Linked DNA regions of Homo sapiens: region 1 is linked to region 2. The links come from fine-mapping of genetic effects on gene expression. A gene starts in region 2. The other region holds a variant in brackets. All regions are shown on one strand. Distances are between the middles of the regions. Region 1 overlaps LINC02981 (long intergenic non-protein coding RNA 2981). Region 2 holds the start of SNX10-AS1 (SNX10 antisense RNA 1).

The links. PIP is the estimated chance that this variant, and not a neighbour inherited with it, causes the effect.
Region 1: its variant is the best candidate, but not a certain one, in a credible set for the expression of SNX10-AS1 in prefrontal cortex (BrainSeq, PIP 0.71).

Annotation. Positions count from the first base shown.
Region 1 is chr7:26,455,250-26,460,627 of GRCh38, forward strand. The region is part of intron 1 of LINC02981 (long intergenic non-protein coding RNA 2981); the gene reads left to right. Among named protein-coding and RNA genes, the nearest start is that of SNX10-AS1, 59 kb to the left of the region's middle. The variant C/T (reference allele first, on the strand shown) is at 2,609.
Region 2 is chr7:26,396,416-26,401,793 of GRCh38, forward strand. SNX10-AS1 (SNX10 antisense RNA 1) reads right to left here and starts at 3,003. Exons shown (of 2, transcript NR_136272.1): 1 at 2,926-3,003. It overlaps LINC02981 (long intergenic non-protein coding RNA 2981), which reads left to right and starts at 2,154. Exons shown (of 5, transcript NR_148502.1): 1 at 2,154-2,606. RefSeq lists enhancers at 1,290-2,246, 1,321-1,560 and silencers at 2,031-2,490, 2,581-2,690.

The DNA.
Region 1 (5,378 bases), 59 kb after region 2:
CACTATTTGTAGATTGCATGACTATCTACACATTATTGCCATTATGAAGATAAGGAAAGTGAGGCTCAGAGAGATGAAGTGATTTACCTGAGGTCACGCAGGTATAAAGGATGGCGCTAGCACTCAAACTTGGATCCCCTGACTCCAAACCCTGGAATAAAAAGAGGGACTATTTCATTCACTTAAACCTAAAGTAAAGTTTCAGTTATGCTTCTTAAAGAAGATCCAGTGGCACTGGACATTTTCCAGAGCAAATCAACTAAAATGAAAGTGGGAATGCAGAAGGCTTATCAGTGTGGGACAGACTAACTGGCTAGGCTCTTTAGTCTGAGCACAGTGAAGTGTGGACAATATGGGACTAGGGTGACCGTGGATCCATTCACCAGCTCCTGAGATGGCAAAACTGTTGACCTCGGTAAGGTCAGGACTGGTAAAAATACTTTCTCACAGTAACTTCAATATACTTAAGAAACTCATTGTCAAGAGATGATGCAGGATAGAAAAGGTTTAGAAAAAAAGATGTTGAGAGATTCATAACTAGGCTGACCATATCATTCATCATCATAACTGATTTGACAGAAAGAGGGTCCTATTAGTAATTGCCCTAGGTCAACAGGCATAAAGACTGTCCTGGGCAAATTAGGACATTTGGTCCCCCAGCCTATAATAGATATAAAGGAAACTGGCATGTTTGGGTGGTGGGGGGTGGAGAGGCACATCGATAACATTAGTGAACATCTGTTCAGGCACTGGCCAGGCAAGTCATGGTGAATGTCTTAGGGCCTGGAACCCCTACTAGGAGAGTCAGATCTTTGTTGCCCCTTCAGGTGTTCCTGGCCCTTGCTGCTAATTATAATAAATAAGAACAGTAGCGACCATTTGTTGAGCACTTACTACACACCAGGCACTGAGAAGTGCTTTATGTGAAAAATTTCATTCAACAATCCTAGAAGGAAGGCACTATTCCTCTCTCCATTTTACAAGTGAGGAAACAGAATCTCAGAGAGGTTGAGTAACTTTCCCAAGGTCACTCAGCTGGAAAGTATTGGAGCTGAGAGTTGAACCCAGACTCTCAACCATGATGTTAACCAGTCTTTACCTTTTCTCTTTTGGGTTGCAGGCCATTTCAAGGACCCAGGTGTCTGGCATAGGATGAGTGTATGGTTAGACAGCACCAGAGTGGAAATAGGGGAACATCAGTGGCATCCCAGCCTCCATGTCAGCCTTGAGCCCACACTAAGAGACACACAGAAGCATAGAGTGACTGCTGGTGACTGCTCAGAGTAGACATGACCCTGGTTTTTGGCCCAGAGCAGCACCAGCTTCCAGAGCAAATCATGGAGTGAATTATCCAACAGCTTTGTTTTGTTTATTATTGCATTGTTTTGCTGTGTGGACAGACAGGAATCTTGACCCTCCAGATACCTGGGTAATGTTCCTATAACCACCCAGGTCATTTTTGGGTCAGGCAGCCCACATTCAATTCTTTTCATCTTTTTCCATCAGTCAATCCTTAATTATTTTTATTGCTTTTCTCTGAACTCTCATCAATTTGCTGGCATATCACTTTTCGGGTGGTGAGATACCAGAAGTGTTCTTCAGAGAAATTATAATCTCCTGTGCATGATGTAATGCTTTGGCTTAGGCAGTTGAAAATCACAGCAGCAATTTCAGCTGCTATTGGTATCATAACCCGCGATCAATTTGGTCGTCTCCAATTAACTTGACTTTTTTTTTCAGTGAAGGTAAGTACATGGCTCAAAGTCAATATAATTTATATCTGAACTATTCCAAGGATATGTATATATGTATGTGTGTGTGTATTAAAAGCAAAAAAAAAATGAAGCAAGTTCAGGAAGCAAAAAAGAATGTCTGGTCTTTGCTCATTACTGATCACCCCCGATGTGCCAGACCCCAGCTGCTAACTAAGCTCAAGAAGAATCTTATCTTGAAATGTTTAGGACATTTTAAACATTTTCTTCATTAAAAATTACTCTTGTTTTCCTTGACACCCTTTAATGATTACATTTTTACTCTCATGTTCCTATTTGTAGATTGAGAGCTTTCTCTTCTAGTAACAGTGACCCACTGTGACTCAGGTTATAACTATCTGTGGCTTGATTATTTTGAAGTTAATTATGCTTTGGCATGAATAATTACATTAAGCAGGTTATATTAGAATACTCACCATGTAATATTCTTTTCTCATAAGTAAAAATGGAAGACTGAGTTAACTTGGAGTTGAAAGAAATTAATTTGAACAATTTGCCGTCCCTCAGATTTAAGCCACTTTGGTTACTTCTTTTTTCCAAGTTGACTCATTTTTTTCAAGTCTATTTGTCTTTAGAGCAGCTCTCTTTTCTTTTCTTTTCTTTTGTTTTTCTTTCTTTCTTTATTTCTTTTTTAACCTTGTATTATTTGCACAAAGATGGCGGTGTGAGTATTAGTTCCAAAATGATGGCATTGTCTCATGACAATCACAGATGCAGTTTTAAAGTTCTGGTATTTAGCACGTAATAAAAAACACCAGGAACACACAGCTTCTCTGTGAGGGATGGCTCACTGGTGTACAGAGTTGAATCACACAGAGCTGGATCTGGTCACCCAT[C/T]GTTTCTTGTCCAGATAGTGGCTTTGAAATGGCCTCTCAGAAAGTCAGAGATGACCTCAGGCCTGTCCACAGCTCCAGCAGCTGTTTCCTGCCTCCCAGCCATCTCATGATGGGATGCAGATCTAGTTGATGTTTTCAGCCCGCACGGATCACTTCCTTTTGTAATTTAGACCCATGAAGGCCTTCTCAAATGGTTTTGTTCACGGTGTAAGAAGTCATTTTCTTCCAAGAATCTACCTATGTTTCAGAGTTGGCCTCATTTTCTGCAAGGTCAGCTTTACCTGGGGGTGGCAGAGAGATGATTCAGGATGTGGATTTCATTAGTGCATTTTGTTTAAAAATGAATACAGATCACGTTCTTTGATGTGTGTCTTTAGTTGAAAACACCACCACCACCACCGTCACCAAATGCTACCCTAAAAACTTCTCTGTAAAGTCATGACAATATCCTCTTCTTGCAACTCCCCTGACTTTGTGTCTTTCTGTAATATACAGTATAATTTATAAAAGTGTGAGCAACTGTGGAATTGTTCTCCTAATAGATTCTGAAGATTCCAATTTCCATTCTGCCACACAAGACTGAAAATCCACTTGTGCTCACTTATCTGTATCTGTACCTCATCCCCACGCTGCATCAAAAATCAGGTTCAGGTGCAGGTTAAGAGCACGCATTTACCTCCAGAATATGGGACTTATTAAATATCTCTCCACAATTAACATCACCGTATCAATAAGAATTATCATTAGGTCCTGTCAATCAGGTGCTGAATTTTGCTTCAGGGAAACAAAACAATTTAAATTATAGCAAGTGCTCCCCTTCTTTTTTACTTGCTTCTCTTTAAATTGGATAATTATGTGGCTTTTCATTAGATTCCTCTAAGCATAATAGATCACGATATTCACCCTTTGACCTTGGTGATGAATGTCTCTGGTGAAAACATGTGACAAGCAGTGTTCTAATGAGAACAAAATACTGGATAACTGGAAATCTTGTATAATGAAAGGAGGAAGCAGGAGGGAAACATAACCTTTAAGGTTGATGCACAAAATATATTTGTAATGAGGCAATAATATGGGCTGGGGAGAAAAGGGGCTAGTTTTGTTTCTAATAATGTGGATGGAAATGATGATTTTTCTCCTTTGGAATGTGAAAAACAATGGAGAAACAGACATTTCAGGAAAGCTGTGCATCAGAAAATTCTGATCTCAACTGAATTGTAAGCACAGATGGAATGAATCTGCTGGCCTAAGTGGGGATTCAAATGACTCGCTGCGACTTGGAACACCTGCACATGGCAGTGTGAGGGTACCTCTCATTTTATTGCTTTCTTTATGGGAGTTCCAAATGTAAGGACAGCTTAAAAAGGAAACAATTTGGTCTCAGGGGATCTATAATTGTATTGGGGCTGTCAAGAAAGGACAAGGGAGGCAATGGGACACCCCCAGTACTTTCCAACCTCCCTCTCTTGGTTAGTCCCTGAACAACCTGCCTTGTTGGAGCTGGGACACCACCTACATCTTCAAAGTCCTCTTTCTGTGGTGTGAAGAGAGGTTGGGGCATCCTAAAGGTGGCCCTGAAATGTAGCCGGAGGTCAGGGAAAAGCCAATGACCTCTAGCTTCTTCTTCTTGGTTCCTCTCCCAACCCCCTGCACACCTGGATTTCCTGGATGGCTACTTATTGGGCTGACCCAGGCACAGCTTTGCTCCTTGTGGTGATGGATGGGGGATTTCCCATCAAATCAGCCCTTGGTACTGTGATTTGCTCTGGAGTTATGGAGACAGGTAGTTTGCTTCTTTTAGATTTCTTAGATGCTTCTCTGTCCATTTAGGATATACAGCACAAGGGTAGCCCATTGTAAAGCCATTCATCAAGGGTATGGATTTGCTGTATCATCTAAGGACATGGGTTTGTGGCAGGAGCTACTTGTTAAATGCACAGGCTAGGCTGTGCTTGTTTTAGAGTGGAAGAAAGAGAGCTGGAAACCACCACTTATTCGGCACCCATTTTGTGCCAAGCACTCGCCCAGGCTCTTGATACATGCTCTCTGATTGAATTCTTCCATCAAACCTTAGCCTACTTTATGATTTGGAAAATGGCCCAACCTGACTCAGAATGACCTGACAGCAAAGCTGGGGTTTAATTGCAGGTTGGCCTGACTCCTAAGAACATGTTCTGTAGGTTAAAGGTAGCACAGAATGTAACACTTTTACCGTCTCCCAAGAACCATGCCTTTACTGTAACGTTATCCCCAGCTTACCTTTCCAGGTCTTGATGGAATCGATTTGGATTATTTGGACTTAATATTATTACCATCAATCTTGCTAGTTGTACAGTTTATTTTGTTTAACAGAAGACATGCAAGAGAAGAAACAGCTGCCTCTATAAGTTGATTTCTTCCGGTGAATTCCAGTTTGGAGGAAGAATTTGCAGGGAATGATGTATGTGCTTACAAAGGATTAAGAAACTAACCAGGCTCAAAACCATGGTTCCCTTTGTTTATCTGCAGATCTGTCCTGTTTAAGGTAAAATTCACCCTGGGCCCTCGCCCCTGACCTCCACCAGGTGACTTTTCATGGAGACATTCTCACTGCCAGCAATCCTTCAACTCTTTCCACAGAAGTCTGCCAGGAAGAGAAATGTCCAAAGTCCATTTTGAGCTCTCAGCCTGGGATTTAGCTGCAATTTTTCATGGACACTGGGCAATTACTGGCATACGAAGCCAAGGAGAAGCAAGAGAGGGAAGGCCCTGCTTCTCTAGTGAGATCATC
Region 2 (5,378 bases):
GAGGAATGGGAAAAGCTTCTTGGAAGAGGTGATATTTAATCTGGACTTGGAAAGATCGGTGATATTTGAACAGTTGGACATGAAGTTCAAGGGCATTCTAGAGAATGTCATGGGAGAGGAAATGCAATAGCATGATTTGGGGATGTACTGTAGTAGACAAATAAGGCTGGAGCTGGGTTAGGTGCAGATTGTGGAGGGTCTTAAATGTCTTGCTAAGGGAGTGTGGAGTGCCTTTCCTCAGCAGTGGGGAACAGAGATATTTGAGTTAGTTACTGTGTATTGATTCCAGATAAACGAATAAAGCATATAGTATGTATATATTTTTTATAGTTTTTTTGGTATATTTTCATGAAAAGTGTGTATGATTTTAGTGAAACCATAAAAATCCATTTTCATTCCAATTTAGATTCTGTTTTAAAGTAGTTGCCAAGGAAACTAGTAAGTGACTGGTTATGCCCGATTTTCCCTAAGTTCAAAATTAGATGCAAATTCTTCAAAGAGACTACTTGAAGGCCAGTAAACATTTCAAAGGCAGTCAAGCTCAGACGCCTGGGTGTGTGGGTGCAGGAGGGTTAGAAGGGGGGTTCTGATGTTCCTGGAGGGAAGAGATGCCTTGCCTGTGTAGGCAAAGAGCTACTTTGAGGGAAAAAAGCTGAATGAGTTAGAGGTGAGTGCCCAGGAAGAGAAGCTGGAAGTGAGAGGTTCCACTGAAGTGCCTAGAAACAGACACTCTTTAATGGAGACAAGACCAAATTTCTGGAGTTTTCCTTTGTTTACATCTTTTTATCTTGTCTCGTTTCAAAAAGGAGTTAACTTTAAATATGTCCCTGAATAAACACGAGGCAGCATGACTCCATCGCAGGTAGAGATAGGACTAAAACATGATTCTCCTAAACTTTAACCCTGGAGTTAGCTCACTTAATCCTGTAAATCTCTGCAAAGACTAACTTTGTTCCCTGGCTCCTCCGTGGTTGCCAGGTGGTGGATATACATTCTACAACAGAAGAAACTGGAATCGCTAGAGGTGTCTTTTTTTAGGGCAAGGAAGCATTTCCCAGAAAACCCCAACAGATGTCCCCTGGCTTGGCCTTGGCCAGGACTGGTCACATGCTCTTTTCTAAGCCAGTGCCTGGGCAAGGGAAGGGGTTGGTCATAACGGATTTAGACTACTTAGGATTTACTTCTGGGCCAAGGAGAGGGAGGGGGTGAGGGAGGGGGTGAGGGAGGGGGTGAGGGAGGGGGTGAGGGTGGGGGCGGGGGGCTGGCCCGGCCTAAGATGGCTGGGGGTGATGCGTTCGGGGGACAAAGGAGTGCTGGACAGTTGTGTGAGCTGTAAGAAGGACCCGGAAAATACTGCAGAGTGATTGAGAGTGTAGAGGGGCCTGGGTTCTCACCTGTGCTCCCTCCCACCTTAGCTGGGTTATGCTGGGAACCTTTCAAGGCTTTGCTAAGCCTGGGTTTCCAGGAGTGCAATAAGATCGCTGTGATAAACATGTAGGTAAAGCAGTTGGCATAGTACCTTGCGTAGAATAGTCCTCAGCATATGTTTACTACTGTCGTTGTTGCTATTAATAAAAGTGACCTAGCTCCTCTCCTCGAGAAGTTCACAAGGGGCCCAAATGTGACAGGGGGAGCTATCAGAAGGCGGGAGGTGACTTCTTGCCAGGGAGCAAGCCAGGGCAAGAAGAGAGGCGCCGTGAAGCCTGCGTTCCCTCCCGCACGCGGCTTGCCTCGGTGGCCACACGGGGAGCTCAGCAAGGCCCAGGGTTCGGGAGGCGGGTCCTGCACAGCGACGCAGCCTTGTCCCGGTGGCCGCAGGCCTGGGGAGCAGGGCGCAGCACACCCGCCGCCCGCTTGCAGGCGAGACGAGAGCGGGGCGCCGGGATGCTGGCGTCCAATTTAACCACCAGGGCGCACGGGACGGAGGCCGGGGGTCCCGCTTTTCCGTCAGAGTTCGCGGTCACGAGTGGAACCCACTGAGCACTCTAGTTTCCTGGTATTTTCATGGCAGTAATTGGATGACAGAGTCAAGAGGCAGGGCCTGCGCCGACACTGACTAGCAACGCGCGGCCTCTGAGCCGCGCCCGGCCGCCCACCCCTTCCTCCTCCAGCACCGGGCCGGCTCCCCCTCCCGGCCCGGCTCGGCGGCTGGGGGGTGGGCGGAGCCGCGGCCGGGCAGTTCATTATGTTGGACAGGGCGCGTCTGCGCCTCCGGCCGCCGCGGCTCCCGGGGCCTCCGCCTGCAGCCGGCGGCGGAACGAGGGCAGGCGGCTGAGACAGGCGAGCTATTTGCATTCCCCGGCAGTCATTTTTATATGCGGAGGTAATGAAGTTGTCAGCGGCGCCCCGAGTGTGGCAGAGCCTGATATTCAAATCGCCCTGCCCGCTCCGCCTGCTCCCGCCCGCTGGTCCCGGGAGCCCCAGGCTGCGCGCGCCCGCACCGCATCGCCGCTTTGCCCCGCGACCGCGCGCGCCTCCTCGTCCTCCCCCGCGCCTTTGTTTCCGTCTCCTTCTCCTTTCCCTCCTCTTTTGTGTCGGGCCAGACTCAGCCCCAGAAACCAGCCACCCTGCCGCGTCCGACTGCCAGGGATCCCTCACGCCGCGAGGTGAGCTGGTCGCAGGTGTGGGGAAGTTCGCGGGTGCAGCTAGGCCGCCGCCCTCGCGCTCGACGCCACGCCCGCCTCCTCTTTCCTTCCCCAGGGGCCCCTTGCCCTCCCTTCACCTCCGTCTCCAAGAAAGATGACCTAGTACTGCCATTACCGTTTGGGCCTAGAGGAGTTTTCGTTCCTCTTTCCGAATGCATATTTGTGGTCATTTTTTATGATTGCAGAAACCCAACACACAGCTATTCTGTCAGGCTGCCGAGAAAAGGCTGTTCGGCAGTTGCAGCCCTGGTGAGGCAATGAGGAGGAAAGGTGGACGCACCTGCCTGGAGTGGTTGAAGGAAGGCAGTGAACATCCACGCTCCTGGGGTTGGTTTTCCTGAACCTCTGTAGCTGTGCTGCTCACTGGGGCAGCCACTGACCACAAGAGGCTGCCGAGGGCTTGCAGTGTGGCCAGGCCAGACCAGGATGTTCTCCAAGTGGGAAATACACACCCCATTGTAAAGAAGACTGTATGGAAAAAAGAATGTGAACTGGCTCATTCATCATTTAAAAACATTGATTGCATATTGAAATGATAATATTTTGGGTATATGGGGTGAAATAAAGTATCATGAATTAAATCTTTTTTTAAAAATGTGGCCACAAAGAACATTTAAATTTACACATGTGGTTCACATTATATCTCTGTGGGATCGCACTTAAGACCCAACCCCACCCATCCTCTAACTCTGCCCTCTCAGCTTGCTCTACAGGTACTTTGGAACAGGGCAGGGATGGAGGGAAGGTCCTTGTATCTTAGGGATCAAATGCCCAGGAAAATAATTAGGAGGTGTTTGGGATTATGCTGAAAACCCTGACAACACTGAATAGCAGATGTCTCTTTCTTTTCCCTTTGTTCACTGTAAAGAAAAACTTACACTCCCCCACAGCCATGCCACAATTCCATGGACCAACCATTCATGTGTGAAGGTGGGCCTCTAGGAGTGTTTTGTGCCTTTTAGGAGTTATTTGTGGCACACTAAACTTGCTGACATGCCATTTAGAAAAGTGAATACTGTGTACGCACTGTAACAACTATTCCATAAGTATTTTTGGTGTACACTGTTCCTCAGCACTCACAGGCTTCGGAGTAGGGGCTCCCGGAGTATGCATTGACACGATGCGCTGCAAATGATCCGGGCGTGGGGAAGTCCCCGAGTGTGCATTGATTCCACACACGGCCACGGCTCCTACAGGGCTTTTATGGTGCAGCTCGCCAATGATCCGTGTGTTAAAGACTCCCCAAATACACATTGACACGATAGACTGGAGTTGTTTGGGTCTATCGTGGCAATGATCCGGGGATAATGGCAGTGTCTTATACAATTTCACTGAGATTGGAGTGCTCATGGTCCTAATGGCAGAACCGGAACTGCCCCAGTTAAGTCCCACCATGGCGCCCAGTAAAGGGTGTGTGGGTCTTTGACCTTCTGCTTCATGACACTGTGGCATTGCTAATTTTACTGATATTTTAACTAACATAATTGAGTTAGCATTTTTTTCCCCCTGAAAATTCATTTTTGTAATTCAACACCTGAATTAGGGAGTCCATCTAGTGATGGTTTCATTTGGTTAATCATAAGCTAAAGACCTAGGAAAGGTCATTCTTAAACCTAAAGTGTTTTGGGAAAAATAATCGTGGGAGATGCATATGAGCTTGAGACAGAGTTAATATGGAATAAATAACCTCAGTCCTGAGAAAACCTAGTTGGCTAGGCTGAAATAGACAAGATGAGAAGGTGGGAAGAAGATGTTTTTAAAAATAATGAAAGTAACATATTCAATAAAAATAATTCAAACACTGTAGAAGTGTATGAAATAAAAAACAGAATCCTCCCACTCCTTCCTTCCTTCTTTCTATACCATTCACTGTTACAAGCACTATTAATATTTTTGTATATTCTTCCAGTAACTTAAAAACACATGCAAATATATACAGTCATGCATCTCTTAATGATGGGAATATGTTCTGAGAAATGCATCGTTAGGCGATTTCATCATTGCACGAATATCAGAGAATGTACTTATACAAACCTAGATGGTGTAGCCTACTACCCACCTAGGCTATATGGTATAGCCTATTGCTCCTAGGCTACAAACCTGTACAGCATGGTACTGTAACAGAATACTGAAGGCAATTGGCCAGGCACTGTGGCTCACGCCTGTAAATCCCTGCACTTTGGGAGGCCAAGGCTGGCCTTCAAGACCAGCCTGGCTAACATGGTGAAACCCTGTTTTTACTAAAAACCCCAAAATTAGCTGGGCTTGATGGCATACACGTGTAGTTCCAGCTACTCAGGAGGCTGAAGCAGGAGAATCACTTGAATCTGGGAGGTAAAGTTTGCAGTGAGCAGAGATCATGCCACTGCACTCCAGCCTGGGCAACACAGCAAGACTCCATCTCAAAAAAAAAAAAACAACACTGTAGGCAACTGTAACACAATGGTGAGTACTTATGTATCTAAATGTAGAAAAGGTACAGCAAAAATACAGTATAAATGGTAAAAAAAGAAAAAATACAACTGTATAGGGCACTTACCATGAATGGAGTTTGCAGGTCTAGAAGTTGCTCGGGTGAGTGGAGTGAGTGGCGAGTAAATGTGAGGGTCTAGGACATTGTGTATACTAGTGTAGGCTTTATAAACACCGTACACTTAGGCTACACTAAATTTATATTTAAAAAGGTAATTGCTCTACAACATTGTGATGGCTATATTGCCACTAGGCTATAGG